Homo sapiens: one gene and its partners. The protein of the gene in region 1 interacts with the protein of each later gene in a biochemical or structural test. Each region holds a gene or a part of one and is shown on either strand. Other genes may lie near its edges. The genes, in order: CTTN, WASL, ARHGAP17 and MAP4K5.

What was found.
Region 2: the proteins of CTTN (region 1) and WASL interact in far-western blotting, tested with the Homo sapiens proteins (one study listed by BioGRID).
Region 3: the proteins of CTTN (region 1) and ARHGAP17 form a complex in vitro, tested with the Homo sapiens proteins (one study listed by BioGRID).
Region 4: the proteins of CTTN (region 1) and MAP4K5 form a complex in vitro, tested with the Homo sapiens proteins (one study listed by BioGRID).

The regions. Positions count from the first base shown.
Region 1 is NC_000011.10:70,393,154-70,401,594, forward strand, and holds the start of CTTN (src substrate cortactin), read left to right. Parts: upstream 1-5,375; 5' UTR 5,376-5,461; intron 5,462-8,441.
Region 2 is NC_000007.14:123,703,891-123,711,379, reverse strand, and holds part of WASL (actin nucleation-promoting factor WASL), read left to right. Parts: intron 1-2,156; coding exon 2,157-2,291; intron 2,292-4,553; coding exon 4,554-4,640; intron 4,641-5,006; coding exon 5,007-5,103; intron 5,104-6,722; coding exon 6,723-6,746; intron 6,747-7,489. UniProt on the Homo sapiens protein: Regulates actin polymerization by stimulating the actin-nucleating activity of the Arp2/3 complex. Involved in various processes, such as mitosis and cytokinesis, via its role in the regulation of actin polymerization.
Region 3 is NC_000016.10:24,921,219-24,928,707, reverse strand, and holds part of ARHGAP17 (rho GTPase-activating protein 17), read left to right. Parts: intron 1-975; coding exon of another isoform or gene 976-983; exon of another isoform or gene 984-1,024; intron 1,025-7,489. UniProt on the Homo sapiens protein: Rho GTPase-activating protein involved in the maintenance of tight junction by regulating the activity of CDC42, thereby playing a central role in apical polarity of epithelial cells.
Region 4 is NC_000014.9:50,522,348-50,529,836, reverse strand, and holds part of MAP4K5 (mitogen-activated protein kinase kinase kinase kinase 5), read left to right. Parts: intron 1-7,489. UniProt on the Homo sapiens protein: May play a role in the response to environmental stress. Appears to act upstream of the JUN N-terminal pathway.

The DNA of each region.
Region 1 (8,441 bases):
CTTATTTATTTTATATTTTGAGACAGGGTCTCCCTCTATCATTCATGCTGGAGTGCAGTGGCGAAATCATGGTTCATTGGCAGCCTTGACCTCCTGGGCTCAGCTGATCCTCTTGCCTCAGTCTTCCAAGTAGCTGGGACTGTAGGCACAGGCCACCACACCCAGCTAATTTTTTTAAAGTTTTGTAGACACAGGGTCTTCACTATGTTGCCCAGGCTGGTCTTGAACTCCTGAGCTCAAGCAATCCACCTGCCTCGGCCTCCCAAGGTGCTGGATTATAGGCATGAGTCACTGTGCCTGGCCTTTGGCTTTCTTATTTAGTATTCATTTTTACAATCCCTTTGGAACTTACATTCTAGGTTCATTTTAATTAGGAAATGTTTCATTTTCTCTCTTCCTCACTGTGTGTGACGCTGTCTGTCTCCCTGTTCTGCAGTTGCCTCAACCTCTCTGTATTAGGGTGGGCTAAACATCTGGAACAAATGGACTCCAAACGCAATATCTTAAACACAACAGGATTTTCTTTTGCTTTCACGTAACAGGGCAGGGTGTATGTCCAGGTCAGGCAGAGGAGGAGAAAGGGATAGTAAGGAAGATCTGTTCCACGCAGTCTTGGAGGGATGCAGGCTGGTGGGCTCTGCCATCCTCAAAACAGGGCTTCCAAGGTTGTACCTGTCACCTGTAGTAGGCTGAATAATGGCCTCCAAATATGTCTGCATCCTAATAGTCAGAACATGTGATGTTGCTTTACATGGCAAAAAGGAGTTAGCAGATGTCATGACATTAAGGATCTTGAGATGGGAGGATATTCTGGGTGGGTCTGAAATGGGATCCCAAATGTTCTTGTAATAGGGAGGCAAAGAGACATATCCGTACAGAGAGAAAACAGGTGTGAAGATGAATGCATGGGTCTGAGGGATGCAAGAAGCTAGAAAGGCCACAGATGGTTCCTCCCCTAGAGTCTCCAAAAGGAACAAGCCCCACTGACACCTTGACTTTAGCCCATGAAACTGATTTCAGACTCTGGCTTCCAGAGCTGAAGAGCATATATTTGCATTGTTTTGAGGCACTGAGTCTGTCATAATGTGTTGCAGCAGCCTAGGAAGCTGGTCCACGGTAGGAGGCAGCCCCGGGGAGGAATGATGGTCCAGGCTCAGAAGCCATGCATGTCACCTCCCCTCATGTTCCATGGGCGAGAACCTGGCCACATGGCAGCTCCCAACTCCAAGGGAAGCTGGGAAATGTAGTAGAGCTGGACACCCACATGTCCACTTAGTACCGAGGAGGGTGGGGGCGCTGGGTGGACAGCTACATCTCCGTCACACGTGTTGTATTGAGTCCTACAGCCCTGCGTGGTGGTGCAAATGCCCCAGGTCCCATCTGCACTCTAAGTCAGGGACTGGTTTGCTCAGGTCCTGGACATAAGGCTGTCTGGACATCCCTCTTTGGCTGCATGGGTTTTTAAAATTTTTCTTTATTTTTATTTTTTTGAGACAGGTTCACACCATGTTGCTCCAGCTGGTCTTGCACTCCTGGGCTCAAGTGATTCCTCCCACCTCGGCCTCCCCAAGTAGCTGGGACCACTGGTGCGCCCCTGGCTGCGTGCTTCTTTTACAAGCGTGGGTGACCCAGGCCCAGCAGCTTTGCAGTTGCAGGCCCACTCAGCACTTTGCATTTCTCTTCATTTCTGGCTCACAGAGATATCACTTTTGTTTTGTTTTGTTTTGTTTTTTTGATAGAGTCCCGCTGTGTCTCCCAGGCTGGAGTGCAATGGCGCGATCTCAGCTCACTGCAACCTTCACCTCCCGGGTTTGAGCGATTATCCTGCCTCAGCCTCCCAAGTAGCTGGGATTACAGGCGCCTGCCACCATGCCTGGCTTATTTTTGTATTTTTATTAGAGACGGGGTTTCACCAGGTTGGTCAGGATAGTCTCGGACTCCTGACCTCAAGTGATCCACCTGCATCGGCCTCCCAAAGTGCTGGGATTACAGGCGTGAGCAACCACGCCCAGCCACCAGTTTTGTTTTTGTTTTTGTTTTTATTTTTTGAATTTTAGTAGAGATGGGGCTTCACCATGCTGGCCAGGCTGGTCTCAAATTCCTAACCTCAAGAAATCCGTCTGCCTTGGCCTCCCAAAGTGCCGGGATTATAGGCATGAGCCACGGCGCCCGGCTTCGACCTATTTTTGAGCACAGCTATACTTCTTGCTTTGCAAATTTTACACTGTATGTGTAATTCCTGTGGCCAGCCTCAGTCTCTGCCACACATTCTCCTGGGGAGCACAATGGGCATGTGGAAGAGTGTGCTGCCCCTTTCTCTCTGGGAGCCACTCTGAAGCACCCTGCTCTTCACCGGCAGCAGACTGGTCTTTCTAAGCCACGAACGCTGCCCTCCTGCTGAAAAGTCTGCAGTGAGCTTTGTCTTTCCTTCTCTGTAAAATTAGCCCAGCTAATTTTTGTACTTTAATTTTAGAGACGGGGTTTCACCATGTTGGCCAGGCTGGTCTTGAACTCCTGACCTCAGGTGATCCACCTGCCTTGGCCTCCCAAAGTGCTGGGATTACAGGCATGAGCCACCGCGCCTGGCTGCTATATTTTCTTTACATGTTTTCTTGAATAAAATACATTTTCTTCAACCTAAAAGTTCATTTTTCCAATTTTAATAGAAATAAGAACATTTCCGTGGGCGCCCAAAGATATGTCCACAGCCTAATCCTCAGCACCTATGACTATGACCTCTTATGGCAAAAGGTGTGACACAGTGAGGGACTTGAGAGGAGGGGTTTGTGCTGGATCAATACAGTCACAGGGCTCCCTCTGAGATGGACACCACCGGCTATGCCTGCTTTTTTGACTAGATGATTTCATACCTCTGTAGAGGCAGAAATTAACCTTTAAAAAACAGGCAGCAATGTGGCCTGGCAATGTGGTGGCTCACACATGTAATCCCAGTGCAGGAGGGTCACTTGAGCACAGGAGTTCGAGACCAGCATTAGCAACACAGCAGGACCCAGTATCTACAAAAATATTAAAAAATTAGAGGCCGGGCATGGTGGCTCACGCCTGTAATCCCAGCACTTTGGGAGGCCGAGGCGGGAGGATCACCTGAGGTCGGGAGTTCGAGACCAGCCTGACCAACATGGAGAAACCCTGTCTCTACTGAAAATACAAAATTAGCCAGGCAAAGTGACGCACGCCTGTAATCCCAGCTACTCGGGAGGCTGAGGCAGGAGAATTGCTTGAACCCGAGAGGCAGAGGTTGCAGTGAGCTGAGATGGCGCCATTGCACTCCAGCCTGGGCAACAAGAGGGGAACTCCATCTCAAAAAAAAAAAAATTAGCTGAGTGTGGTGGCACGTGCCTGTAGTTCCAGCTACAGCTACTTGGGAGGCTGAGGTGGGAGGATCACTTGAGCCCAGGAGATCGAGGCTGCAGTGAGCCTTGATTGCACCACTGCACTCCAGCCCCTGTCTCTAAAGATTAAACAAACAAACAAAAAAAAACAGTCAGCAATGTAAAAAAAAAAATTTTTTTTTTCAGAGATGGGGTCTATATTGCCCAGGCTGGTCTTGAACTCCTGGGCTCAAGCAATCCTCTGGCCTTGCCGCTCAAAGTGCTGGTATTACAAGCCTGGCCAACAATCCTTGTGCACAGAAAATGCAAATTAGCTGTGTCCAGTTAAATGCAATTGACCTTTGCACTAGAGATAGAGCAGTTTTTGCAAATTCATTTCAGCATTCGTCTTCCGTTTTTTTTTTTTTTGACACAGGGTTTCTGTTGCCCGTGCCGGAGCGGTCCTTTTGCCTCAGCCTCCAGAATAGCTGGGACCACAGGTAAACGTCACCATGCCTGGCTAATTTTTTTCTTAAAAAAAATTTTTTTTTTTTGGTAGAGACAGGGTCTTGCCATGCTGCCCAGGCTGGTCTCAAATTCCTGACCTCCAGCAATCCTCCTGCCTTGGCCTCCCAAAGTGTTGGGATTACAGGCGCGAGGCACTGCATCTGGCCAAATTCTTTAAACAATTTGTAACAACTTATGATGTATTCATTATCGAGTTAAATAAAATATTTGACGTGTTCATTTTATATGTGTATGAAGGTCATGATTTTACCTTTAAAAAAATGGTCAACACCTGACATTTCCTTCCGCCACCCGCACTTCCAATTCATCCTCACATCTGACAGTTTAGCTTTCTAAATGCCTCTTGCATCTATCCACTTCTCCCCATCTTACCTGCCACCAGCGGTCTGCCCGAATTGGCTACATTAGGCTCTACCTGGCCCTTCTCCCATCCATCTTCCACACAGCAGCCAGAGTGATCTCATTACAATTCAAACTTCATTATGTCTTATTTATTTATTTAGCGATGGCGGGCGGGGGCGAGGGTCTCACTATGCTGACCAGGCTGGTCTCGAACTCCTGGCCTTAGGCGATCCTCCCATGTCAGCCTCCCAAAGTGTTATGATTACAGGCGTGGGCCACTGCGCCTGGCCCAAACTTCATGATGTCTCTTATCAGCTTAACTTCCTCCGAGGACTTCCCGTGTCTCCCAGAATAAAGACCGAGGTCTTCGCTGTGCTCTATCGGCCTCTGCATGACCTGGCCCCTCTCACACCACAGCTCCGCTGCACCACTAGCCCTCTACCATGCTGAGCTGAGCCTCCTCCAGTTCCCCTGCTGCAAGACCGTTCCTGCCTTGGGACCTCTGTTGGCCCTGCTGTTGGAACCTGCTGTTGGCCTGCCTGGAAAATTCTTCCCTCCTTACCTTGTTTACTCTTATAGGGCCTTCACATCTTGGCTAACATGTGAATCGCCCAAAGAAACCTCTGGTCTCCCAGGGGTTCAGGTCCTACCGTCTCCCCAATACGATGTTATGAAACTCTCACTTCTTGGCATTTATCTCATTTCCCAGGTGAGTACCCATGTGGTTTAACGCTTGACTCACCTTCTAGGCTGCTATGTCCCTGTGGCCGGGGCTCGCGTCCCTGGCACGCATGTGGCCCTTTCTTGGAGGGGAGGTGCATGGTGAGCGGACGAGGACGGCTGAGGGCGCGCGCGGAGGGAGGATGGAGAGATGAAGAGGCTCCCCGCTCCCGGACTCAGGGCACGTGCGTCTCCTCGGCTGGCTTCCTTCCCCCGGCCCCGGGCAGCGCCGCGGATCCTGAGACCCCGCCGCGGGCTGTGTGCTGCTCAGCGCCCATCCTCTGCGCGCGCAACGCTACTTCCGGGCGAGCTCTGCAGACTCGCCACAGGCCGGGCTAGCGCTTAGCCAGCTGCGGGCGGACCCCCGGGACTCTTGCGGGCCAAGACGCGGGAGGAGGCGGGGCAGGGGGCGGGGTCGCGCGGGGACCCGGATGCGGCCCCGCCCCCGCCCTCGGAACCGGAAGTAGAGCCTGGTGCCTGGGAGCGGCTGGCGCGGCGGAATCCAGGGCCGACCCGGGCCGGACCGACCCCAGGCGGCGGTGAGCGAGCGCGGCGTCCGCCCGGGGTGCAGGCCGGGCTCTGCTTCTTCCCTCCTGTGGCGTCGCCTGGCCGCGAAAGGGGAAGGAAGCGGCGGCCGCAGCGGTCTCACCGCTCTTCCGCTTGCGGTTTCGGGGGCCGGGGCAGAGTGGCGAGGCTTTCCCGGCCTGGGGCGGGGCAGGGCGAGGGCCGGGGGTCCGCGAGGGCCACGAGGACGGGTCTGGGCCCAAGGAGGCCGGGCAGGGGGCAAGGGGGCACGGAGGGCTTGGGGCTGGGGTCCGCGGAGGAAGGTTAGAAAGGGGCCAAATTGGGGTATCAGCTCTGAGGGGAGGGTCCCTGGGCGCCGGGGGGCTCCAGGGCAGGAGAGGGGCCAGGCTGGGAGGGGTCTTGGGTCCGAGGGAATAGGAGAGGGGGATGGGCTCCGAGGGGGAGGGTATTAGGGCCCGAGGGAGAGGGGCTGGGCCTGTGGGGTTCGGGGGTCTGAGCGGAGGGGGCCGGGGTTCGAGGGGCCAAGGAAGGTGGGTGTGGGGGGTCTCAAGGAAAGGGCGAGGGGTCTGAGAGGGAGGTGTCTGGGTGCAGAGGGAAAGGGATGAGGTCCGAGGGGAGGAGATTGGGGTCTGACGGGAAGGGGTCCAGGCGCAGAGCTACTGGGATGGGGTCCGAGGGAAGGGAATTGGGGTTCGAGGGGAAGGGGTCGGGGCTCGGAGGAAAGGTATAGGGTCCGAGGGGAGGGGATTGGGGCTCCAGGGGAAGGGATCCAGGCGCAGGGAAAAGGGATGGGGTCCGCGGGGTCAAGGCGGTTGGGGTGCGCGACTTTGAGGGGCTCGCTGTGGGACGTGGCGGAGCAGCTGGGGATCCGCCCGGCCTGCACCTGAGCGGAGGTTTTGCAATCAGGTCAGTGGAGGCAGCGAGGCGCGGCTGCAGCTAGTCGTGAGGCTCTAAATTTGGAACCGTCCCTCCTTCGGGGTGTGTTTAAAATCACCAGAACGGTGCTTTGGGGCTTTCTGTTACGTTTCCATCACCTGGATAGTCTAAGGGATGCCTGATCCCTGAAGCTGGAAGGCCTTGGGTGAGAAGGGACAGGGCTTCCTCCCGCTGGAATCTGTGGACGTTTGGGGCCCCTTGGGGAGGAATTCATTTTCTGCTGAAGGAAGCTCCGGAGGCATCCGGTGAGCGCTCCCTGGAATCCCATGCGCTCCCTTTGGGCTCAGTGTTGACTTGGCTGCGCAGGCTCTGTCGGGGGGACTTCACCCACTAGGTCCTTCAGGCATGATCCAGCCCTCAAGCCCGGCCGGGCCCAAGGCCGTGGCGCAGGAGGGGCTGGCCGCCTGCCCCTGTCTCCATTCACGTGTTTGACCGTGTGGGTGAGTCACTGGCTCCAGAGCACTGAGTCAGTCCTGTTTCTCCTCTGGTTAGAGAAGTATTCGCCAGATACTCAAGGAACAAGGAAGAGTCTTTTAAGTGGGACTCAATAAAAAGTTGGGGAGGCAGGGTTGTTTTGATATTAGGTCCCCTAGAACTAGAAGCTAACCTTCTGCTATATCTTACTGAAAAGAAATTTCTTTTGACCTGGGGCAGGGGTGCGGTGGCTCACACCTGTAATCCCTGCACTTTGGGAGGTCAAGGTGAGAGGATCGTTTGAGGCCAGGAGTTCCAGACTAGCCTGGGCAACACAGGGAGACCTTGTGTCTACAAAAAAAGAAATTCGCTGGGCATGTTGGCTTGCACCTGTTGTCCTAGCTACTTGGGGCGCTGAGGCAGAGGATCTCAAGCCCAGGAGTTGGAGGCTGCATTGAGCTCGATCGCACCACTGTACTCCAGCCTGGGTGACAGAGCGAGACCCTGTCACCCAGGCTGGAGTGCAGAGGCTCTTCACAGGTGCCATCTAGCACACTGCAACCTTGAACTGCTGGCCTTAAGCGATCCTCCCACCTCAGCCTCCCAAGTAGCTGGGACTGCAGGCCCAGCTAAAGCTGACTTTTAATTGTAGCATTTTGATGGACTTGTTTTTAAAACACTTTTAAAATGACAGCACACATAATCGGCAATTCAGATCTTCAGTCTGTGCCACGCAGTAGGTGCTCAGAAAAGGTGTCCTGAGAGTGTGAATTGCTGTGAGCGCTGGTTGCTGCCTTGTGTTGCAGTATTCCCATGGCCTGGGCCAGCCAAGAGCAGGGGACTGTGCTCCAGGAGCAGGCTTGGCTTTCACTGTGGCCCAGGCCCACCCCATCTGCTCACGCACTGCTTTGAGTAAACGGAGTAAATGTTGGGGGCGGGGTTTCCCTTGAGTAAGTGTGGTGTAGGGAGTGTGCCTGTGATGGTGATTTTGGCTACGCAAGTGTCTGTTTCCTTTCTCCTCCTGCTCTGCCATAGATGCTGAGGCTAATGGAAAGCTGATGGTGGACGGATGGTTCTGTCCTGTCATTTAAAACATTCTTCTGCCAGGCTCGGTGGCTCACACCTGTAATCTCAGCACTTTGGGAGGCTAAGGGCAGGTGGATTGCTTGAGCCCAGGAGTTTCGAGATCAGCCTAGGCAACATGGGGAAACCCCATCTCTGTTAAAAATAGAAAAATTGGCCGGGTATGGTGGCTCACACCTGTAATCCCAGCACTTTGGGAGGCTGAGGTGGGCAGATCACGAGGTCAGGAGATTGACACCATCCTGGCTAACACAGTGAAACACCGTCTCTACTAAAAAAAAAAATACAAAAAATTAGCCGGGCGTGGTGGTATATGCCTGTAGTCCCAGCCACTCAGGAGGCTGAGGCACCAGAATCGCTTGAACCTGCGAAGTGGAGGTTGCAGTGAGCCGAGATCACACTATTGCACTCCAGCCTGGGCAAAAGACTGAGACTCCATCTCAAAAGAAAAAAGAAAAAGAAAAATTAGCTGGGTGTAGTGACAGGTGCCTGTAGTCCCAGCTACTCAGGAGGGTGAGGCAGGAGAATCGCTTGAACCCAGGAGGCAGAGGTTGCGGTGAG
Region 2 (7,489 bases), on another chromosome or scaffold:
TTATAGCATTGTTAGTCTTTATTTCTTAAGCAAGTGTTTTAAGAATTTAAGTTTATCTAAAGGTTAAAATGTTTTTTAGTTTGGGTTTTTTTTTGTTTTGTTTTGTTTTTTAAAGTTCACATATATAGCCACATGATGTTTTACAACGTGAATATTTATAACATCATGAATATTTAGTCCTTTGGCTAGCAAGGGGATTTTCATAATGGGATTTCAGACCCTATTGAATAACTTTTTTGTGTGTGTGTGTGAGCTGTTACTTCTTGATTTCTGGTAAAAAGCGAAGTAGGGAGATTTTTAGATCTTCATTTTGGTACATCTAGTTTCCTAATTGCTATCTTTTTAGAAATGAATGTATTTTGACAGCACCATACTAAAAAAGACTTTATGCGAATTCTCCTTAGAACTAACAAATTGCTTGTTTGATTTTTGCATTCTTCAGCCTGGTATTTGGTACCTTTAGATAGTGTATGCAAGACGCATTTTTCTGAAGTTTTCAGTGCTGGCAGCAGGATGCCTGTGGCACTATCATCCTGAGATTGTGCACTTGCAAACACAAGTGTGTTTTGAGCAGGCCAAAAAGTGTCCCACATTCTTCAGTCTCCTCTTTGAAACCCAGTGTCCCAGGATACACATTTTTTGTTTTTAAGTTATCATAATTTTTATTGACTCTTGCAGAAATTTTTCTGTTCCTTTGTGTCCTACTCAGTACTGTATGTGAAGTTCAAGGTTGAGTTTGGTCTGTAATGTTAAAAACATAACATTGAACATTGTTATCTGAGCAAGTCTTTATGGACTTTTGATCCTAACAGTATACTGATCTTACATTTCTGAATTTAGTATCTAATTATAAAAGATTTGTGCATATAATTGTTCTTTGAAATTCCTCTTACCAAAAAAGGGCACCCCTCAGGCATAGTTCAGTAAACCTAAAACAGCATATCTTCAAATCTTAATGTAGTCTATTTTTTATTACAGAGCCCAAATTCCGTTGAACTAAGGTACCATAATTACTTAATCAGCTCCTATTTTAGGTTATTTCAGTTCTTCCTCTTTAAAAAAATATATATTTATATGAAATATTTTATTTTTATATTTATATTAAAATATGAAGTATTATATTCTAAATGATTTTCTTAATTTCTAGTTTAGAAGTGAAATTACTTTATCAGAAAACATAATTATGGCTTTCAGAGGATTTGTAAGTGCTTTATCAGTGTAAGTGTGTATCACTTTCATAGAAACTTAAGGTTGAATAGTTACATTCTAGGTTATAAAGTAAACTTAATTTAGAATAAAATTAGTTTACACCTTTTCATGATATAGTCTTGAGGAAGGGGGCAACATGGTGTACTGGAAAATCCTAATGCCCTGAAGTGTCCATTGCATGTAACGAGTTAGCTTCCCTCCTATACATCTGAAAGGGTTCTATTTAGGGACTATCCTTGGTAAAATTGAGACAATAGTCACTCAAATCTTTTTCATATCCTCAGTATAGCATTAAAACTGCGTGGCCACTTGTGCAAATCACTTACAATCTTAAACTCACTTTAGAAAGGAGATACTATAATCTGCCTTCCAGGGTGGTAATACTGCTTTCAAGTTTGTCTCAATCCTTATCTAGATAAGTGCTTAACTGCTTTATACAAGTCAGCCATTACTAATGCTACTACTTCATTGCTTAAGTGTTCACTTTATTGGGAAACAGTGTAATAGGGGGAGTAAGAATGCTAGATTTGAAGTCACAAATTGCCTGGATTTGGAATTTCAGCTCTGCCATTTAGCTGTGTGGTATTGGGCAAATTAACCCCTTTAGTGTCGGGTTTCTCAAGTAAAAAATGAAGTTATCATAGTAATAACAAATGAGGCTATATTTAAAAGTGATTAACACATTTCCTAACACATTTTAAGCATCAATAAATGTTTTCAGTAATTATTGTTATGTGATTATTGTATTAGTTATTTATTACTACATAAGAAATTACTTCAGAAACTAGTGGCTTAAAATAACAATACATGTTTATTATTTCCTTGTTTCTGTGAATCAGGAATTTAGGAGCAGCTTAGCTGGGTGGTTGCGGTCAAGCTGTCAGCAGGGGCTATGATCATCTACATATTATTTTGAACCTAATGGTTATAAATTTTATATTTTGCAGACTATGTCTTCAGCAGTGGTGCAGTTATATGCAGCAGATCGGAACTGTATGTGGTCAAAGAAGTGCAGTGGTGTTGCTTGTCTTGTTAAGGACAATCCACAGAGATCTTATTTTTTAAGAATATTTGACATTAAGGTGAGTTTTGTTTTGCTTTCACTTTAAACTAGGTGATTAGGTTTTCTATATCAATTATAATTTAGTTTAGATTTGTTTATCCTATATGTGATATTTAAATTTATACATAAACTAATATTAGAAGAGTGAAGCTTGGTTTTTAGATATTGCATACGGAAATCATGACCAAATGGGAACATGTCTGAAGCCAGAATGTGAATAGTTTCCTATTTTATCTTTCTCCTGCTACCACGCATTAAGGCTTTTTTTTTTTTTAAATTATGCCTGTTGGTTCTTGGGCTTTCTTTACACTCTGTATTTTTTTAATGAAACTCTTTTATTCCACCTGGTTCATTATAGAATAGCGTAGATAGTCTGTTCAGGTAACAACAAAATAATATTTTAGCTCAGTATGTACTGTTATTTAGCCCAGGTTTAAAACATTTCAATATCTATAAAAATCTGTTTGCTACTCATTTTTCCTTATATTGTTTCTCATGATAGATATATTCAGATTTTCATAGCTTTATATCCCTCCCTTCCAATCATAAATCACATTGTTATAGATTGAATACCTTGTTAGGTATTCATTTCTTACAGTTGTCATAAAAATATTTTGCTAAGATGAAGTCTCCATTATTTTTTTAAAAAACCTTTCTGTAAGTAAGCCTCCATGATTAATATTTATATGTGGCAATAAGTGCAATGAGATTTTAATTACAAAAAACTAAAACTGCCTTTAAACTCTTGGGCGCTAATATGACCTGATAGATAACAGTGAAGAGATTTTTACACCTCTGGTCTCAGCTTTATTTGTAAAATCAGATAACCATCTTGGTTTGTTATGAGGTATTTCACTGAGATTAAATGAGATCTCAGTTATGGTATTTGGTAAATTAGTGCTTCTTTTGTTGTTGTTGTTGTTGTTTTGAGACAGGGTCTTGCTCTTGCTCTGTCACCCAGCCTGGAGTGCACAGCTTACTGCAACCTTGATCTCCTTGGCCCAAGCAATCTTCCCACCTCAGCCTTCTGAGTAGCTGTGACTACAGGTGCATGCCACCACACCTGGCTAATTTTTGTATTTTCTTATAGAGATGGGTTCTGCTGTTTTGCCCAGCCTGGATTCAAACTCCTGGACTCAAGTGATCCTCCTGCCTCAGGCTCCCAAAGTGCTGGGATTACAGGCCTGAGCCACCAGTCCCGGGCTAAATTAGTGCATCTTAATGTCTGCTTCCAAGACAGCTGAGAGATATGACATGCTTCTGTCACTAGCAGTGGCTTACTAGTAATCACTAGCAGTGGCTAACTATGGCAGTGATTCTGGGGGGTGGGGAACACATACGTAGTTTGAAAGAAACCCCCAAGTGCTTTGACATATTTCTCATAACCATTGAGAAGCACTATTTAGAAATGGCATACACTTACTACTCCACTAAGAAGAAAGGGATTCCATTGCAGTGGTTATAATGTGTGAACAGTGTATTTTACATATTTTTAAATTGTGGTCTAGGTAGAACCTTGCATTTCTGAATAGGGCAATGACTATCTTTCTCTAACCACTTATTTCCAATTGCTGGACACTCATAATTCGTCACCTTTGGTATTAAGATTAAACATATTTTTTATACTATGGCAATAGATATGGCAGCCATCATGGCACTCTTATCCATAGTTTAACCTTGATACATTTTAATTATCAGTCTCTTTCTGCATCATGATTAATACTACTTATACTAGTATATAATTAGAAAGGTACTCTGCAAAAGTTAAGAATTTGAAGATGGTTAATTAGCAGTACAAGGAAGGTATATTTGACCCTCCCACATCTATAAAATTGAGGAAAAGAACATAAAGTATTCCTGCAGTGTTTGATAGTACATTGTCTAAATATTGCTGGTGGAACTGTGCTTTGGTAATCAGTTCATGTACAAAAGTATCCTATTCCTTCTATGTAACATTGATGACCTAGTAATTATTCTGGTTATTATGTATTTGACCAAGTAGCTGAATTTGGAAATGGTTGGCTAGTGAGATTATATCTTAGCTGAATTAAACTGACTTGATATGTAGGTTTTATGAAAGATACGTTATCCAGTGTTTTCAGTTTTAAGAAATTACTGATTAGATTATGTGACACTATTTATATATTATAAATATGTTACATGTGTGCATTAAAAGTTATTTTTAATATAAACAGTTTTCTTAATATGAGTCATCTTCTTTGTTTTATTCCTAGAGATTATGTTTTGGTAGTTCTTATTTTAATTTTTAACTTTTTTCTAGGATGGGAAACTATTGTGGGAACAAGAGCTATACAATAACTTTGTATATAATAGTCCTAGAGGATATTTTCATACCTTTGCTGGAGATGTAAGTCATATTTTTCTTTATTGCCATCTTTACTTTTTTCATTGCTTGCCTTTTCTAATCCAAATTATTTATAGAACCTTATTGAAAGATCAAATTCAATTTGCTATTTTATTTTTTTGCTGAAGATGAAATATTCAAATTAGTATATGTGTCTGCTGTGATAGGTAACTTCTCTAATAGTAATCTTTTACTTGAACTTCTTCATGCTTTTGTGTTAAGTTATTCAGATCATAAAATAATGTCTTATCTGCTAGTAAAATTAACCTTTCGTTCTTTAGAAATATACTTCTTTTCCTCATTGTTTTTATGATATAAAGCTAAATTCATACATTCTGTTGTTTCCCCTTTGTGATGAAAATATTTCAGACTTGTCAAGTTGCTCTTAATTTTGCCAATGAAGAAGAAGCAAAAAAATTTCGAAAAGCAGTTACAGACCTTTTGGGCCGTCGACAAAGGAAATCTGGTAACCCTTTTTTAATTACTTAAATCAGGCCAGCAAACTAATGCTCATGGGGCAAGTGTGGTCCATTTCCTGTTTTTTGTAAATAAAAGTTTACTGAAACTTAACTGTATTCATTGGTTTACATGTTGTCTTTGGCTATTTTTTGTCACAACACAGTTAAATAGTGATGACAGTGATATATGGTCCTCAAAGCCAAAATTATTATCTGAAATATTTACTATTTACAAAAAAATTTGGTGGTCCTTACCTTAAAATAAATAATATTTTTGTTGAGAACTATTTTTTTTAGATTTACCGAAGGGCCCAATACAATAACCTTTTTTGTTGATAAAATTTCATATATATTGACTTTTAATTTTGCATTTGTGATAGCATTTTTTGTAAAGTTTTAAAAGTATTTTATACTTTGTAAACAAAGACTTTAGGTAAGCTTAGAAGCAAATAAGCAGAGTTGCTAACAAGATCTGTAAACATTGCCTTGTCTTTCTATTTTGTTCCTAATGCTATATACTATAAAACCCATAAGGAACTTAGTTTAGTGTGTGAAACAACTCTAACACATATAAAACAATTATAGAACAATGCAGGATAGTATAAAGCTTTAAGTTAATTGGAGTAGAACTATTACTTGACAACAGTGAACCAGGTGTTTCTCTTGTAAAGTGGAGAAGGGTGACTAGGAAAGGGGAACCTCTCCAAAATCATCTTAAGCAGATGAGTTTCAGAAGAAAGAACATGTGCTTTCATCCAGTCCTATAGTTCCAAAAACTGTATGCCAATGACTCTCAAAGTTTTTTCTTCAGTACTGACACATCTTCCCTGACCTTCAGACTCTGTCTACTCAAGTGGCAGAATAGCCTTTAGACTTAACACGGTCTGAGCAGAATATTTGATCCATGTCCTGTATCCTGAACCTTAGCCCCACTCAGATCTGTTCCTATTCTTCTACTAATCTTCCTTGTTTCAGTAAAAGGCATTTGTTCCATCTTATCCCTCAGGCTCACCATGGTCCCTCATAAATCCTATCAGAGTCCTATTGACTCTGCCTTCAAAAACATGTCCTGTCTGACTATTTCTTACCATTTCTGCTGCTACCATCCTAATCCAGGCCACCATGATCTGTCAGCTGGGCTGCCACACTAGCTCTCTGACTGGTCTTCCTGCTGCTACTCAATCCTTTTTACTATCTCTTTTCTATACAGTAGCCAGAGTAAACTTTTAGAATTGTAGATTAGGTTATATCACTTTCTCTATTTAAAATTCTGTAAGAGCTTCCTATCATATACACATAAAATCTATAGTCCTTAACCATGGCCTGTGGAACCCTACATGATCTAGTCCCTGACTTTCCTTCTTGTCTCCTTTCACTGTGCCATTTGCTCACTGTAGTCCAGTCTTCATGATGTTCTTTCATGTTGCACCCTCCTTGGGGCCTTTGAATGTATTGTTCCCTTACTTATTTTATTTAGATCTCTACTTAAATGTCGGGTCTTCTGAAAAATCTTCCTTAGTCACACGTATGTCAATTTAGGAATAAGACAGTTTAGTGAATTAATTTTTTTATGTTGATGTTGTCTTACATATATTTAATAATATTCTTCTAATTTATTTTCTAACAGAGAAAAGACGAGATCCCCCAAATGGTAAGCTTTTTGACAATTATTAATCTTTTAAGATTTTAGATGACAGTTTAATCCTTGTGGAAACATGTACCATACATTAGTAATATTTAGTATCTTTTACATGTTAATCCTTGTGGAAACATGTACCATACATTAGTAAGTAATGTTTAGTATCTATGATCAAATTATACAGTTTATTGTGTTCCTATTTTTAATTAATGATTGACAGATGAGACTTAGGAAACAATATTCTTTGATATTTTTCTAACATGAAGAAAGAATACATAGGGTGAAGATCACTAATACTTATTATATTTTAATTCTGGATTCACAGTTGACTAAGTATACAATCGGACCTTAACATTTTTCCTAGAGGCAGTACATTTTGTCTAGAATATTTGTTAATGTCCTACTTTAAGATTTACCTTTCATTCTTATTTCAAAATATTATTTCACATTGCTTATGTGTTATATGAAGCCCCTTTCAAAATGAACACCTACTGTTGTGGTGTATTTAGAACTAATTTAGCTCTGTATAATGCTCTTTAATTTGATAATGACCACTTGAAGTATTATGAATTCATTTTTTAAAAAACATTGAATACCAGAGAGTAAAAGCAGAATACCAGGATGTAAAAGATAAGGTCTCAGGGGTAGAAATTCTTACTCTAGACTTCATAAACTCCCTGAAATTGTGTGCTAAATATGTTCTTTTCTCTGGAGAGAGAGGATCCATGGCTTTCATCGTATTTAAATGAGGTTCC
Region 3 (7,489 bases), on another chromosome or scaffold:
CCTACTGTGGGCCCCTTAGCCAGAGTGCTCACAGCTTAGGTCTGAGTAAGACTTTCTGTAGGAACCGTAAGTGGAAAACCAGAGTGTAGCCTTCAAAACAGGGAGGAGGCCCGGGTGCGATTCCACAATTTCATGCTTGTGACACACCAAAATGTTATTATCAGATATTTCCTTTTATTTAAATGAAAGATTGCAAACCAGAATTATGCCTATTTTTTAATACCATTGTTACCCGGGGTGTATTTATTCCACAAGTTTAGTTTACTGATCTGCTACAACACTGTAATATACTGCCTGTAATTATTAGATAAGTGAAATTTTACATTAAAAATGTGTTTCCCGAAGATACTAGCTATTTAAAAACCGGTCTATGCTATGAATTCTCCTAACTCAAGAAATTCCAGGTTACCAGAGTTATCTTTGTATTACAGAATTAACCTGTACTATCTTAAAATCCCCTGGCCTCCCACTGAAAGTACACAGAAGGCCAACATTTAGAATTTTTTAATCTGCTAGTATTGATCATACTGCTATTAACCATTCTTGGATGTAGCCATTGGGTTTTTCAAGGAGGAAAAAATATATAACTTCCTTGGACAGGATGGTCCTTTATTATGACATAATGTTTTCACTTAGAAAACTTTAGATGGACAAATTCCTGAAAACAGGTTATTCCTTTAGAATTGGATTAAGTTAGAGTTTTAAAGAGTTGGGTTAAGGCTAATGGGATTAAGATAAACTCTTGGGGGGAGATTATTGCTGCCAAGCAGGTTTGGCAGCCAACTTCTCACAGCTCAGCACCAGCACTGGAGGATGCCGGCATTCTGGCATCATTTTGAGTCTCCTGTTAATTGTGACTCTAGAGAGCAGTAAGAGTTTTAATTCCCATGTAAAAGAGTTTACATCTTGCTATTTTTGAAGTAATAGATTTTAGCAAAGAGTATTCTAATTTAAACATTTTATTAAATAATTTAGATGTATGACCTGCCATATTCAGTAAGAACTGAGATTGGAATATTTAATGGTAAGGAAAAGGCACCTGATTGGCCAATGCATTTTTGCTACTTGATGATCATATTTGTGCACTCATGCCTGTTACTAACTGGCCACCCTAACCCTGCCTGCTTGCATCCCTACTAATAGTGCATGCACTGAAGGAGGACTGGCTTTGTTGATGCTTGCTGCAATGATTCGGAATACTAAGTGTGTACCCAGATGTGGAACAGGTGGTCACAGGGCTGTCCTTGTTACTTCTTTAATTTCCATTCTTTTCCATATCAGGCAAGCTTGAGGTATAGTAGGAAGAACACACATTATGGAGTCAGACCTGACTGAGTTAGAATTTCAGCTCTTGGTATAACATAGGCTAGGCACAACCTGGCTGATCTGTAAAGTGGTGACATCTGTCTAAATTGTTGAAGATGAAATAAGAGAAAGTCCAAGATTATTCTGTTAGCCAGTTACAGTTCTTAATATACGCGCAATCTCGGCTCACTGCAAGCTCCGCCTCCCAGGTTCAAGCAATTCTCCTGCCTCAGCCTCCTGAGTACCTGGGATTATAGGCGCCTGCCACCACATCTGGCTATTTTTTTTATTTTTAGTAGAGACGGGGCTTCACCATGTTGGCCAGGCTGGTCTCGAACTCCTGACCTTAGGTGATCCGGCCTCCTCAGCCTCCCAAAGTGCTGGGATTATAGGTGTGAGCCATTGTGCCTGGCCTGCTATTTATCATTTTTATCTAGAAGAAAATAGTTTTAATCAGATTTCTATGTTAGATTCACATATCAGGGTTTTAAAAACTCATACGCCCGGACCCGGCCTTCTAGGACCCAAACACAGGAGACTGGGGGTGGAACCCAGGTATCCATATTTTGATTCTGATGCACCACTTGGTTTTTTGAATCTCACTTCTTTCATGGGTTAAAAAGACAATGCTCTGCAGAAGGAGATAACATATACATTCATATAATTTAGTGAGCCTGAGACTGTCTGTGAGGCGTTAGTCCACTGTACCACAGATAGACCAAATCACTCACAAAGTAGCCATAAGCCTGGACACTTTGCTGGCTAATTTCATAGTGTTTGCTTTTTAAACTCTCACCCTTCTTATGTCATGTAAGTAATGCCTTTTTAAAAATAAGCATGAGCTGGGGCACGGTGGCTCACGCCTGTAATCCCAGCACTTTGGGAGGCTGAGGCGGGTGGATCACTTGAGGTCAGGAGTTCAAGACCAGCCTGGCCAACATGGGGAAACCCCATCTCTACTGAAAATACAAAAAGTTAGCTGGGTGTCGTGGTGGGTGCCTGTAATCCCAGCTACTTGGGAGGCCAAGGCAGGAGAACTGCTTGAACCCAGGAGGTGGAGGTCGCAGTGAGCTGAGATCGTGCCACTACACTCCAGCCTGGGTGACAGAGTGAGACTCTGTCTCAAATAAATAAAAATAAGCATGGATATTAAAACTCTTGAGAAATGGAAATAATAAGAAATCAACTGTAGCTATACAATTGAAAAAGTCTGCCATTTATATTCTACTTTTTTTCTTTTCTCCTCTTCTCTTCTCTTCTCTTCTCTTTTCTTTTCTTTTCTTTTTTTTTTTTCAGACGGAGTCTCACTCTGTTCCCCAGGCTGGAGTGCAGTGGCACGATCTTGGCTCACTGCAAGCTCCGCCTCCTGGGTTCACACCATTCTTCTGCCTCAGCCTCCCGAGTAGCTGGGACTACAGGCGCCCACCACCACGCCCAGCTAATTTTTTGTATTTTTAGTAGAGACAGGGTTTCACCATGTTAGCCAAGATGGTCTCGATCTGCTGACCTTGTGATCTGCCCGTCTCGGCCTCCCAAAGTGCTGGGATTACAGGCGTGAGCCACCACACCCGCCCCTTTTTTTCTTTTAGTTTTTCTAGAAGGCAAGGAGGTACATGAGCATAATTATTTGACATAGACAGATTTGGATCCTTTTATTTCACTTTACATCATATGCTCGTTCTCATGTGATAATGTAATTTTTAGAACCATGTTTTTCAGTGACTACATAATGTTTCATCAACCAGATGTATTATTACTCCTAGTTGGATATTTAAGTGGCTTCTGTTTCTACTTGCAGTTTATTTTTAATAAGTAGATAATCAGAATTGTGTCAAGATAACATCCAGTGAGACTTGAACAGAATCACTCCTGAATAGTTGACTCAGAGTCTCTAATAGCCCTAGAAAACTGACGAGAAATCATCAGTTCCTGATAAAATTACACAATTCTACTTCAACCAAAGAGGATCAAAGCCAGATTGGTTGGACTGTCATTCTTCTGTTTATTTATTTTGTGTATTTTTTGAGACAGAGTCTTGCTCTGTCACCCAGGCTGGAGTGCAGTGGTGCAATCTTGGCACACGGCAACCCCTGCCTTCCTGGTTTAAGCAGTTCTCTTGCCTCAGCCTCCCAAGTAGCTGGGATTATAGGCAGGTGTGGCAACACCTGGCTGATTTTTGTATTTTTAGTAGAGACAGGGTTTTGCCATATTGGCCAGGCTGGTCTCCAACTCATGACTTCAAGTGATCCACTCACTTCTGCCTCCCAAAGTGCTAGGATTACAGGCATGAGCCACCGCACCTGGCCCCATCATTCTTAATCACCCTAACATTTTCCCTCTTTCCCAAAAGAGTTGTGTATATCCTTGGGTGAGGATCCTGAAAGTGAAGACATTATCTGAGGAAATAATGGTTTGGGTCTTAAACACTCTGGTTAGAGCTAAGTTTATATGACAGGTATTACATTGTAAAAAGGAGAAAAAGGTTATTTTAGAAAGACACCTGTTAGAACCTGCTTTTTTTTTTATTTTTTTTTATTTTTGAGACTGAGTCTTACCCCGTTGCTCAGAATGGAATGCAGTGGTGCGATCTCAGCTCACTGTGACCTCCACCTCCCAGGTTCAAGCGATTCTCCTGCCTCAGCCTCCTGAGTAGCTGGGATTACAGGCACTCACTACCGTGCTCGGCTAATTTTTGTATTTTTAGTATAGACGGGGTTTCACCATGTTGGCCAGGCTGGTCTTGAACTCCTGACCTCAGGTGATCTGCCTGCCTCGGCCTCCCAAAGTGCTGGGATTACAGGCATGAGCTACCACACCCAGCCAGAACCTGCTTTCTAAAAGCACCCTAAACCTCTTTGGTTGTGAATTTATATATTCTCTGCCTTCCAAGGGCTGGTCTTTGAGGATATTGCTTGGAACTAAGTTCATACAGTAGATATTTTATTTAAAAAAAAAAAAAACAGAAAAGAGACCTCCAATAAAAGGTTTCTTTTTTGTCTGATTTTTTGCTTTTTTTTAATTTTGAAATATAATACTTGTCATATAAACTTAGCTCCAAGCAGTATGCTCAAAGACCAGCCCTTCTTGGAATGCAAATAATATATAAATTCATAGCCAGAGACGTTTAGAGGTGTTTAAAGAAAACCAGGTTCTTACAAGTGTCTTTCTAAAATAACCTTTATCTCTTTTTTACAACAATCAACCAGAGTGTTTAAGACTCAAACCGTTCACTGGTGAAGGAAGGCATTCCCTGAGACTCTAGGTCTGAGAAGAGGGATGGGTGGTGGAGAGGGGGAGGGAGTTTATTCGCCCTGCAGTTGTGCCTGCACCACTTACTTTCAAGGGCATATTTGGATCTGTTACTTGTCAAAGTGGCTATCAGAATCACCTTGGACTTCTTGAAGGGTGAGTTCACAACCGAGAAAGCACATATTCAAAATTGTTGAAGTAATAAGTAAATCTTCTAGAACCTTACCCTCAGTGATAACATTCCACTTCTAGCTCTTAAATACCCACTTCTGTTTCCTGGATGAGATACTCAGTGCAGGAAGGAACCTGGGTTACATTTGTCAGAGCCCCAAATCTGAGATGAACTGTATCAAGTTCTGCCTTTGGGCTGAGGCTGGTTACTGGAGGTCATCCTCTGTTTCTCTCTTTTTTTTTTTTTTTTTTTTTAAAAAAAAGAGAGACAGGGTCTTGCTCTGTTGCCCAGGCTAGAGTGCAGCGGTGTGATTCCAGTCCACTGCAGCCTTGACCTCCTGGGCTCAAGCGAATCTCCCAAGTAGCTGGAAGGTGGAACTAGAGGCATGCACCACCACACCCGGCTAATTTTTGTGTTTTTCTTATAGAGACGGAGTCTCATGTTGCCTGGGCTGGTCTCGAACTTCTGGGCTCACACCATCATCCCACCACGCCCAGCCTATTTTGTTTTTTTAAATACAATATCTTTTGTATGAACTTAGCTCCAAGCATATGCTCAGAAACCAGCCCTTCTTGGAGTGCAGTTAATATACGAGTTCATAGCCAGAAAGATTTAGAGGTGTTTCAGACAAACCAGGTTCTTACAGGTGTCTTTCTGAAATAACCATTTTCTCCTTTTTACAACAAACCAGAGTGTTTGTAAGACTGAAACAATGATCTTGGATAATGTCTTTGAAGGCCCTCACCCAGGGATTTACAGACTCCTCTGGGGAGGAGGGAAAATGTAATGCGAAGAGCCAGAGTGCAACCAATCTGGCTTTGATCCTCTTTGGTCCACACTGGCTGTGTCACCTTGGGCAAGGAATAGAGCCTCTGAGTCTCCCTTTCTTATTTCTGCTGCCTTAGGATTAGTTAGTGGGGGTTCAGTGAGACGATGTAATAAAGTGTGGGTGTATAGTACAGTCTCTGGTGTAAGTAAGTGCTCTATAGTAATGTCAGCTACTGAGGCTGGGTGTGGTGGCTCATGCTGGTAATCCCAGCACTTTGGGGAGCCGAGGTGGGAGGATTGCTTGAGGCCAGGAGTTCAAGACCAGCCCAGTCAACATGGTGAAACCTTGTCTCTACCAAAAATAAAAAAAATTAGCCAGGCATGGTGGCGTATGCTTGTAGTCCTAGCTACTCGGGAGGCTGAGGTGGGAGGATCAGTTGAGCCCAGGAGGTGGAGGCTGCAGTGAGCTGAGATTGCACGACTGCACTCCAGCCTGGGCAAAAGAGCAAGACCCCATCTCAAAAAAAAAATTTTTTTTTTTAATGTTAGCTACTGTGATGAAGTCTCTTTCTGAAAACTGGTTCTGTACAGGTTGCCGTAATTCTTTCTACTTTTTGTGTGTAAACAAAGTCATTGTTTCTTTCAGGGACTGATTCATGTAGGAATAGAGAGGGGCTGGGGAAACCAGATGGGGCAGGTGGGCGGCAGAGTAAGGGATTTCCTTTATGCCCCAAAACACATTTTTTCCCCTTGAATTAATAATGTGTGTGGATCATAAATAGAAAAATTCAGAGAGGCACAAATCTAAAAATTATGTATATGTGATGTATAAGAAAAAGAGAGCAGCTGTGGAGGGGCTTGGTGGCTGATAGGCGTTAGCTTGCATGTGAATACAGATATTAACAAGTAGAAATCTCATCCGTATACACAGTGCCTTTGCATCATGCATTCCCCGCCAAGTCATGTCGGTTCCATAGTTTCTGGTAAACTCTGGGCTGAGAAGAGACACGGGCTGGTAGCCCCTTCTGTTTTTGGGGGCCAAGATAATGGGGAAAGGATTGCATTTGCAGTGATTTTCTTATACGTCGTCTTCAAGTCACAGCTACTTCTTTGCCTGAGGATGTAAGAATGGAGGATTGGAAAGATGGTTGCTCTAGATGACTCTTCATGCATCCATCCAACCATCCAAGTGTGCAGCTACAAAATTTCTTGAACATCTGCTATTTGCCGGTCACTGTTTTAGGTACTGAGGATACACTGTGAACAAGACAGACACAGTCCCTGCCTTCGTTGACTTCTGTTCTGCTTAGGACAAATCCAAGACAGCCCCTATTCTGTGCATACAGACCACCTTTGGCTGCACCATAGGCTGGTGCAGTTCTGCACAGTGTCATTGGTTTTATAGTTATCACAAGACCTGAATTGTCTGAAATGACATTCAGCACCTGAACTCTTTGACACTTTGGCACCTCCATAAATCTAGAAATTTCTCTGAGTTGTGGTGCATAGGAAACCTTGAGGGACAACCCAGGAGTAACTGTGAGAAAAAGGGTGTCCCAGGGAGTAAATAGATCTCACAGCTCAGAACTGTAGGGACAGGAAGGTGGAAGGGGTAGGAGCTGGAACAAGTCTCCAAGCAGTGAGCTTCCCCAAAGTGCACCAGCGTTTTCAAGCTGTGCCTGCGTAGACGGGAGCAGGTCGAACAGAAATATAGTCAAAACTAGCTCCCGTCAAGGACAGACAGGATGTCATTTTGCACCACAGCAAGTAGGGGAAAGCAGCTCTCAAGCCTAACTGTGAAACGCCCCCACAAACCACCTCCTCCTCCCACTCCCTCACTGCTGCCTGCCATGGCTACCTCTAACGCAGCAAAGCAAAACTACAAAACATCTCTCTTCTCTCTTACACCAGCCCTAAAATACCTAATGAGGCTCTCATAATTTGCCAGAACCCACATCTACGAGAGAAGCCAGCCCTTTTGTCTTAATTAGGATC
Region 4 (7,489 bases), on another chromosome or scaffold:
TTAAACATGATAAGCATCTCCCCATCTTTGGGTCCTTGTTCTTGCTATTTCCTCTCTTCGTAATGTCTCCCCTTCACCACCGCCCCCCACTATATGGCTTGCTCCCTTCCTCCTTTTTTTCACATCCTCCCGATCTTTTTTTCCTACTCTATTTTTTGCTTTGTACTTATCACCAACATAATGTTTTACTTATTTTTTTCTTGTTTATTATCTATCTTGATTCACTAAAATACTCCATGATGGCAGGGATTTTAATCTCTTCACTGCTCTGTCTCTGATTATGCCTGCCACAGAGTAAGTACTTCCTAAAAATTTGATGAATGAATGAATGAATGAATATCAGACTCTGTCACTTAGTTCTCTGAGCACATGCTTTTGACATCATAGCACTAAGTTAGCATTTAATACTCTATGTATTCCTGTAATGCCTTCTGTTTGTCTGTTTGTTTGGATACAGGATGTCGCTCTGTCCCCCAGGCTAGAGGGCAGTGGTGTGATCTTGGTTCATTGAAGCCTCAACCTCCCGGGCTGAAGTGATCCTCCCACCTCAGCCCCCCAAGTAGCTGGCACTACAGGTGTGTGCCACCATGTCTGGCTAATTTTTGTATTTTTTTTTAGTAGAGAGGAGGTCTTGCCATGTTTCCCAGTCTGGTCTCGAACTCCTGAGCTTAAATGATCTGCCTGCCTCGGCCTCCCAAAGTATTGAAATTACAGGCATGAGCCACCACATCCGGCCCTGTGATGCTGTCTAATGATACCCTGCGTGTGTATTTTTATTACAAATTTCATCTATTTGAGTTCTCTGGGGAAATATTTCTGAAAAACTATTTTATAGTATATCCACTATCAGTGATCTAAGTCCTATAGAATTTTGTCAGTTTAAATTTACTCCTTAGTATGCCTAAAAACACATAACCTGAAACTGTAGTGCTGAATTTTTTAAGCTCTGGGCAATTAGAGTAATTTTGCTATTTATCACTGTGTTTCTGATGAGCTGAACATCCTAGGACGTTTTAGAAGTATTTTCAATGTAGGATATAAACTAGTGAAATACCTGCAGTAAAGAATAATGAAGGTAAATTAGCCACTGTTCTACTCAGATAATATCCCCCTGTGTTTTTGAGAGATGGTCTTGTGCTTTAGGCTGGAGTCCAGTGGCACGATCAGCTCACTGCAGCCTTGAACTCCTGGGCTTAAGGGATTCTCTCTCCTCAGCCTCCTCAGTAGCTGGGACTACAAGTGTGTGTGGCAACATGCCTGGCTAATTTTTTTTTTTTTTAATGTAAAGACAGGGTCTTCCTGTGTTGCCCAAGCTAGTCTCAAATTCTTGACCCCATGTGATGCTTCTGCCTCAGTCTCCCAAAGGGCTGGGATTAATAGGTGTGAGCCACCAAGCCTGGATTTTTCCCTGCCTTTTTTTTTTTTTTTTTTTTTACACCTTAGGTATCTTTTGAAGCAGAAGCTTTAAAGGACTCTGGCTTTGAGATTCTTCGTAATTTACTTTTATGTTCATCAATACCACAGATCCCCTCTGAAGCTTCCATCTTTCCTGAGAATCCCCAAGAGGGAGAGTTCAATCTTATATTGGCTGTTCTTTGGTTGAAAGAAGAGGAGGAACATAAAGATTCTTTTAGATAAATGGAGTGAATCATTGAGGGCAAGAGCAGGAAATGGTAGAGGGAAAAGAAACACAGAAGAGAAAAGGAATTTGGTGGATGGTGGATGAAGGATTAAATGTCAACTGAGCAGCTTTTATTTGTAATTACTGTAAAAATGTAGATCTGCCAGCAGGAAGGATAAATCTGGAGATTTAGATTCTCAACTACCTCTGACCACAAGGATCTATAACAACTACAGCATCATGATACAGTTCATAATCAGTAGTACAAGCCATTTGGGCAGCCCTTATCCAAATATTTGTATCAAAATTGCTTCCAGCCTAGATTTCAGAGAAGTTCTGGCAATCTGGCTTTTTATTTTTATTTTTATTTATTTATTTATTATTATTATTATTATTATTTTACCTTTCATAGAATATAAATTTAGACTGGGCAATCCTATGAATTTTTTTCTAAGCTTTATTGCTTTATCTGATTGATTATAGAAGAATAACATGTTTAGTTCCCAGGGGACAGAAACAGATGTCTCTTGCACATCTTTGTAATGTAACAAACAAATGCTCAATAAATATTTGTTGAACAAATTAGTTGTAGAAAATTACTCAGAGATAGGTACTGCTAATAATTTAATACAGTTTATTTCAGGCTTATTTCCTAAATGTTTTTAAATCAGTATTTCCAAAATGGCTTTTATATTTAATTTATGATTGGGAATATGATACAGGTCTTTTTTCTGTTTGATTGAAATGACCAGCATTTTCCCTAGTCGTTAAATATTCTACAAAAGTACATTTTTTTTTTTTTTTGGATGACAGGGTCTTGCTCTTTTGCCCAGGCTAGAGTGCAGTGGTGTAATCATACAAAAGTACTTTTTTTTTTGAGACGGAGTCTTGCAGTGTCGCCAGGCTGGAGTGCGGTGGCGCAATCTCAGCTTACTGCAACCTCCTGACTCCCTGGTTCAGGTGATTCTCCTGCCTCAGCCTCCTGAGTAGCTGGGATTACAGGCATGTGCCACCACACTCAGCTAATTTTTGTATTTCTAGTAGAGACGGGGTTTCACCAGGTTGACTAGGATGGTCTCAATCTCCTGACCTCGTGATCTGCCCACCTTGGCCTCCCAAAGTGCTGGAATTACAGGGTGAGCCACCACACCCAGTCAAAAGTACTATTTTTAAAGGATCCGTTGAATGAGCCTTCATTTAGTTAATCATTCTAAGTTGCATATTTGTTATTTCTAGTTTTTAAACTTTTTTTTTTGCAATTATAAATGATGTTATAATTTGCGTAGAAGTCTTTGTCATGTAGTCTTATCACTAACGTGGGTTCCTCTGGATGCTAGATGAATTAGGTCTGCTATGGGGAATCTCCTTTATGTATGCCTTTACTTTCTTTTCCTCCAGCCAAGAGTCACCATTCTGGAATGGCTTTAGGCACTTTGAAACATATCCCAAGATCCCATTTTATAGAGACAAAGCTTAATGTATCATCACACTTCTAGAAGCATTCATTCATTAAAGAAGTATTTGTTGAGTGCTGACAATGTGTTAGGATATGGGGATGCAAACATGAGATGAAGTACACTGTCAATAAGGAACATATGGTTTAGTCAAGAAAACAGACGTGGCCAGGCGCAGTGGCTCACGCCTGTAATCCTAGCACTTTGGGAGGCCAAGGCTGGTGGATCACCTGAGGTCAGCAGTTTGAGACCAGCCTGGCCAACATGGCAAAACCCCATCTCTATTAAAAATACAAAAATTAGCCGGGCATGGTGGCAGGTGCCTATAATCCCAGCTACTTGGGAGAGGCAAGAGAATTGGTTGAACCCGGGGGTCGGAGGTTGCAGTGAGCTGAGATTGCGCCACTTCACTCCAGCCTGGGCAACAAAAGCAAAACTCCATCTCAAAAAAGAAAAAAGAAAGCAGACATGTAAGCAGTCATAATTTGGTAGAAAATTATGTGCCATAGAGGAGAAGTGGAAGAAATGCCAAACTCTGCCTTTATTGGGGATGAAGGAAGGGAGAGAGAGGAGTGTGAACCAAGGAAGATTAACAGAGGAAGGAACATTAACTGGATTTTTAAAAGAAGACCAGTGGTTTCTAGGTAGAGAAGATAGGAAAAGATATTCCAGGCTTTGGGTATAGTATGTGCAAACACCTGGAGGCTTGAGAAGCCGTGATGAGTTTTGAGAGATCTGCATCTGTATTCATTCCAGGTTCAGTGTGACATCTGGCAGAGATGTCATTTCAATTATTTATTTTTATTATTTTATAGATGGAGAATAGAGGCTATTTTCTGGCAGGAAACACCAGCTAATGGACTCCATGTGTCATATCAAAGAATTTGGACCTTTTCAATTATTTATTTTTATTTTTTTGAGACAGGGTCTTACTTTTTCACTTAGGCTGCAGTGTAGTGGCATGATCTCAGCTCACTAGACCCTCCGCCTCCCAGGCTCAAGTGATCCTCCCACTTCAGCCTCCTGAGTAGCTGGGACTGGCACACACTGCCATGCCCAGTTAATTTCTGTATTTTATTTTATTTTTTTGTAAAGGTGGGGTTTCGCCATGTTGCCCAGGCTGGTCTTGAACTCGGAGGCTCAAGCAATCCATCCACCTCTGCCTCCCAAAGTGCTGGGATTTTAGGGTGTGAGTACACTGTGCCCGGACTAGAGAAACACTTTTTAGGAGGAAATATCTTACAGTGTAGTGTAAGGATTTTACAAAGTGGCTAGAAATGTAGAGACCAGTTCCCGAATAATCCGGATGAGAGTTTATGCAAGACTAAATTTAGGCCCTGGTATAGAAGATGAAAGGAAGGGATGGATTTGAGTCATATTTAGAAGATGATCAAAAACACCTGGTAATCGGTGAGGGGCAGGAGGAGAAGGGTAATTGATGGCATTTAGAATTTCTGGCTTGAGTGACTACATTGATGCTATCAACAGAGTTAGGAAATACCAAATATGTGGAGTCTGGATTTTGTGTTTGGTTTTGAACATAAGGCATTGCATAGGTGAATGTGTCTGGTAGGTGGTAGGAAATGCACCTCTGGCCTTGAGAGTTCTGGACTGGGGATACAGGTTTGGGAGTCATCATCACTTTATGGGGTGGTACCTGTGAAATATAGGTGAGGTCACCCAGGAGAGTTTGTAGGAGAGCTGAGGAAAGGCTGTAGCCTTAGAGGGGTGGCAGAGAAAAATAATATATTGAAGGTGTCTGAGAAGAAACAAAGCGGTATGAGGAAGTTCTTTTCATAGGAACGAAAAGTTTCAAGAGATGATCTCTATCATCAGCTGCCTCCATTCTTGTTCCTGTTTGCTCTAACTGCAATGAGGAAGATGAATTCATTCTCCAAAAAATATAAATCTGAAGTTTTGTGTCATTTCTCCTTTATTTCCTTTGTCTGTAGAATAAAGTCTTAGAATAATATTCCTGTTAAGGCCCTGCTTATCCCAATACCGTATCCATACTGAACTTTCAGTTCTTTATATGCACTCTACTCTCTGTCTTTCAGATTTTTGCAGGTATTCCTTTAGAACACTCTTTCTCTTCCATCTTATCGCCTACTCTTTGGGTTTCTGTTTAAACATTACATTTCTCGGTGGGGGGGCTTTTCTGTCCCTTAGAGTAGGTCACACCTAGCAGCTGTATGTTTTCAAAGCTCCATGTACATTTTTTATCATGATACTCATCATTTATCACTTCTCATTTTTGCTTGTCTTCCTGGTAGACTAAAACTGCATGAGAACAGAGATCTTATGTTTACTGTTGAAACACCTGTACTAGTATATTGCCTAGTATATAGTATGTGGTCAATAAATATGCCTTGAAGGAGTAAGCAGCATAGTGGTCATGTAAGCAAGGAGTTGGAAGGGTTCATTAAGAGTAGAGTTGAGGTATGATTGGTAAGTGAGGAAGTAGAGGGAATGTAGCCTGCTCTCTGAAGCAGCTTAGCTATGACAGGAAAGAGAAATGAGGCACACAAATGTTTCTTCTTGTTTCAGGGTTTTACTTTCATCAAGACTGAGTGATTACAGCATTCAGTTACCATTCTTTAAGTTTGTCGTATCACCCAAGTGTCTAAGACGATTGCTGAGTTTAGAGATGGAATTCTACAGAGAAGGAAATCAAGACAAAGAATTTGGGAGGAATTGAGAATTCAGAAAGCAGATAAAAGGAAAAAACATAGGATGGATTTTTAGGGACTAGAGTAGGGGATAAATGTAAAAACCTCCCTCCCTTTCTGATCTGGAGCCTTGTTTGTTTATTTCCAGTCCTAGTTGTTCCACTGCGAGCATGGTTAGAGTGAGGCATGTTAATGAATGGGAGCTGGGATGGAGAACTGGGAGGACAGGATGCAAAGGAGTATTTAACATTCAACAAATACTTATAGAAGGCCTCCTATGGGGCAGACACTGTTGTGGTGCCTTGTGATACATCTAGTGAACAAAGCGGACAAAGATTCCTCCCCTCATGGAACTCAAATTTTAGTGGGGGGAGAGAGACAACAAACATAATAAACACATTGTATAATACGTTACAAGGAGATTAAAGGTATAGAAAGAAGAAAAGGTTGAATGGTTAAGGAGGATCAGGAATGCCTGAATGGAGTGAAGAAGGCAGGTTGGGGAATTATATAAGGATGGTCAGGGTAGGCCTCATTGAAAAGGTTAGATTTGAACAGACTTGAAGGGCATTAGGGAGTTAACCAAGTGGATAACTGGGTAATCAAAGGAAGTCTTAAATCTCTTTCTTATTGAGTCACCGGAACCTGTGTCTGTAGCTGAATTCTAAGCTTAGGGGCAGGCATATTATCTAAGACACAAGCATGGCCATCACCATGCCTTATTGACTGGTGCAGGACCACAGGTCATTGTGATTTTTATTTATTTATGATTTTTTTTTTTGAGACAGAGTTTCGCTCTTGTTGCCCAGGCTGGAGTGCAATGGTGTGATCTCAGCTCACCGCAACCTCCACCTCCCAGGTTCAAGCGATTCTCCTGCCTCAGCCTCCCTAGTAGCTGGGATTACAGGCATGGGCCACCACGCCCGGCTAATTTTGTATTTTTAGTAGAGATGGGATGTCTCCATGTTGGTCAGGCTGGTCTCGAACTCCCGACCTCAGGTGATCCACCCGCCTCAGCCTCCCAAAGTGCTGGGATTACAGGTGTGAGCCACTGCGCCCAGCCCATTGTGATTTTTAATTAAGTTCAGCAGTTGGTTGTAGGTTACCAAGTCTTATGTTATTTTTTTAAGCATGAATTTGTAAGCAAAGAAAATGTAGCTGTTTCTTATGTCTTCTCTCCACCAGTATACTTTGATCTTTAAATATTAAGAGTCTAGTCCAATGCCTAAAAATCTGAAGGTAATAAAAAATAGATGTATGTGATGTTATTTCTCTGACATTTGATATCAAAACATCACCTACTTTCTTATTTTTTGATAGTAACACAGCTGAACTATATGAATATACTGTCCTTTTTGTGTCCTGTGTCTGACATTATGAGAGACTCTTGGTTTTCATATTTGAGTGAGAGAGTGAATAACTTGGAAAAATAGCTTAACAGTAGAAAATAAGAGAGGAAGGATTGTCCTTCAAAAACTTTAAATTATATTTCTTATTAAATAAATGTTATGTTAAATGTTGTATAAGGTCACTGCGAAAATAAAACATGTTTTATTGGGATGATGTGCTACTGTTGTGGATATTTACTATTTTAAAAGTCATCTGGGTAAAATCTTATTATTTATTTTTCTTACTGTTCAGAGGTAGGCTTATTTTGTGACTGCCTAAAGAGAAAATATGGTTCTAATGATGAATGTGAAGCTCTGAACCATACCTGGGAGCAAAATACATGTTATGAAAACTGT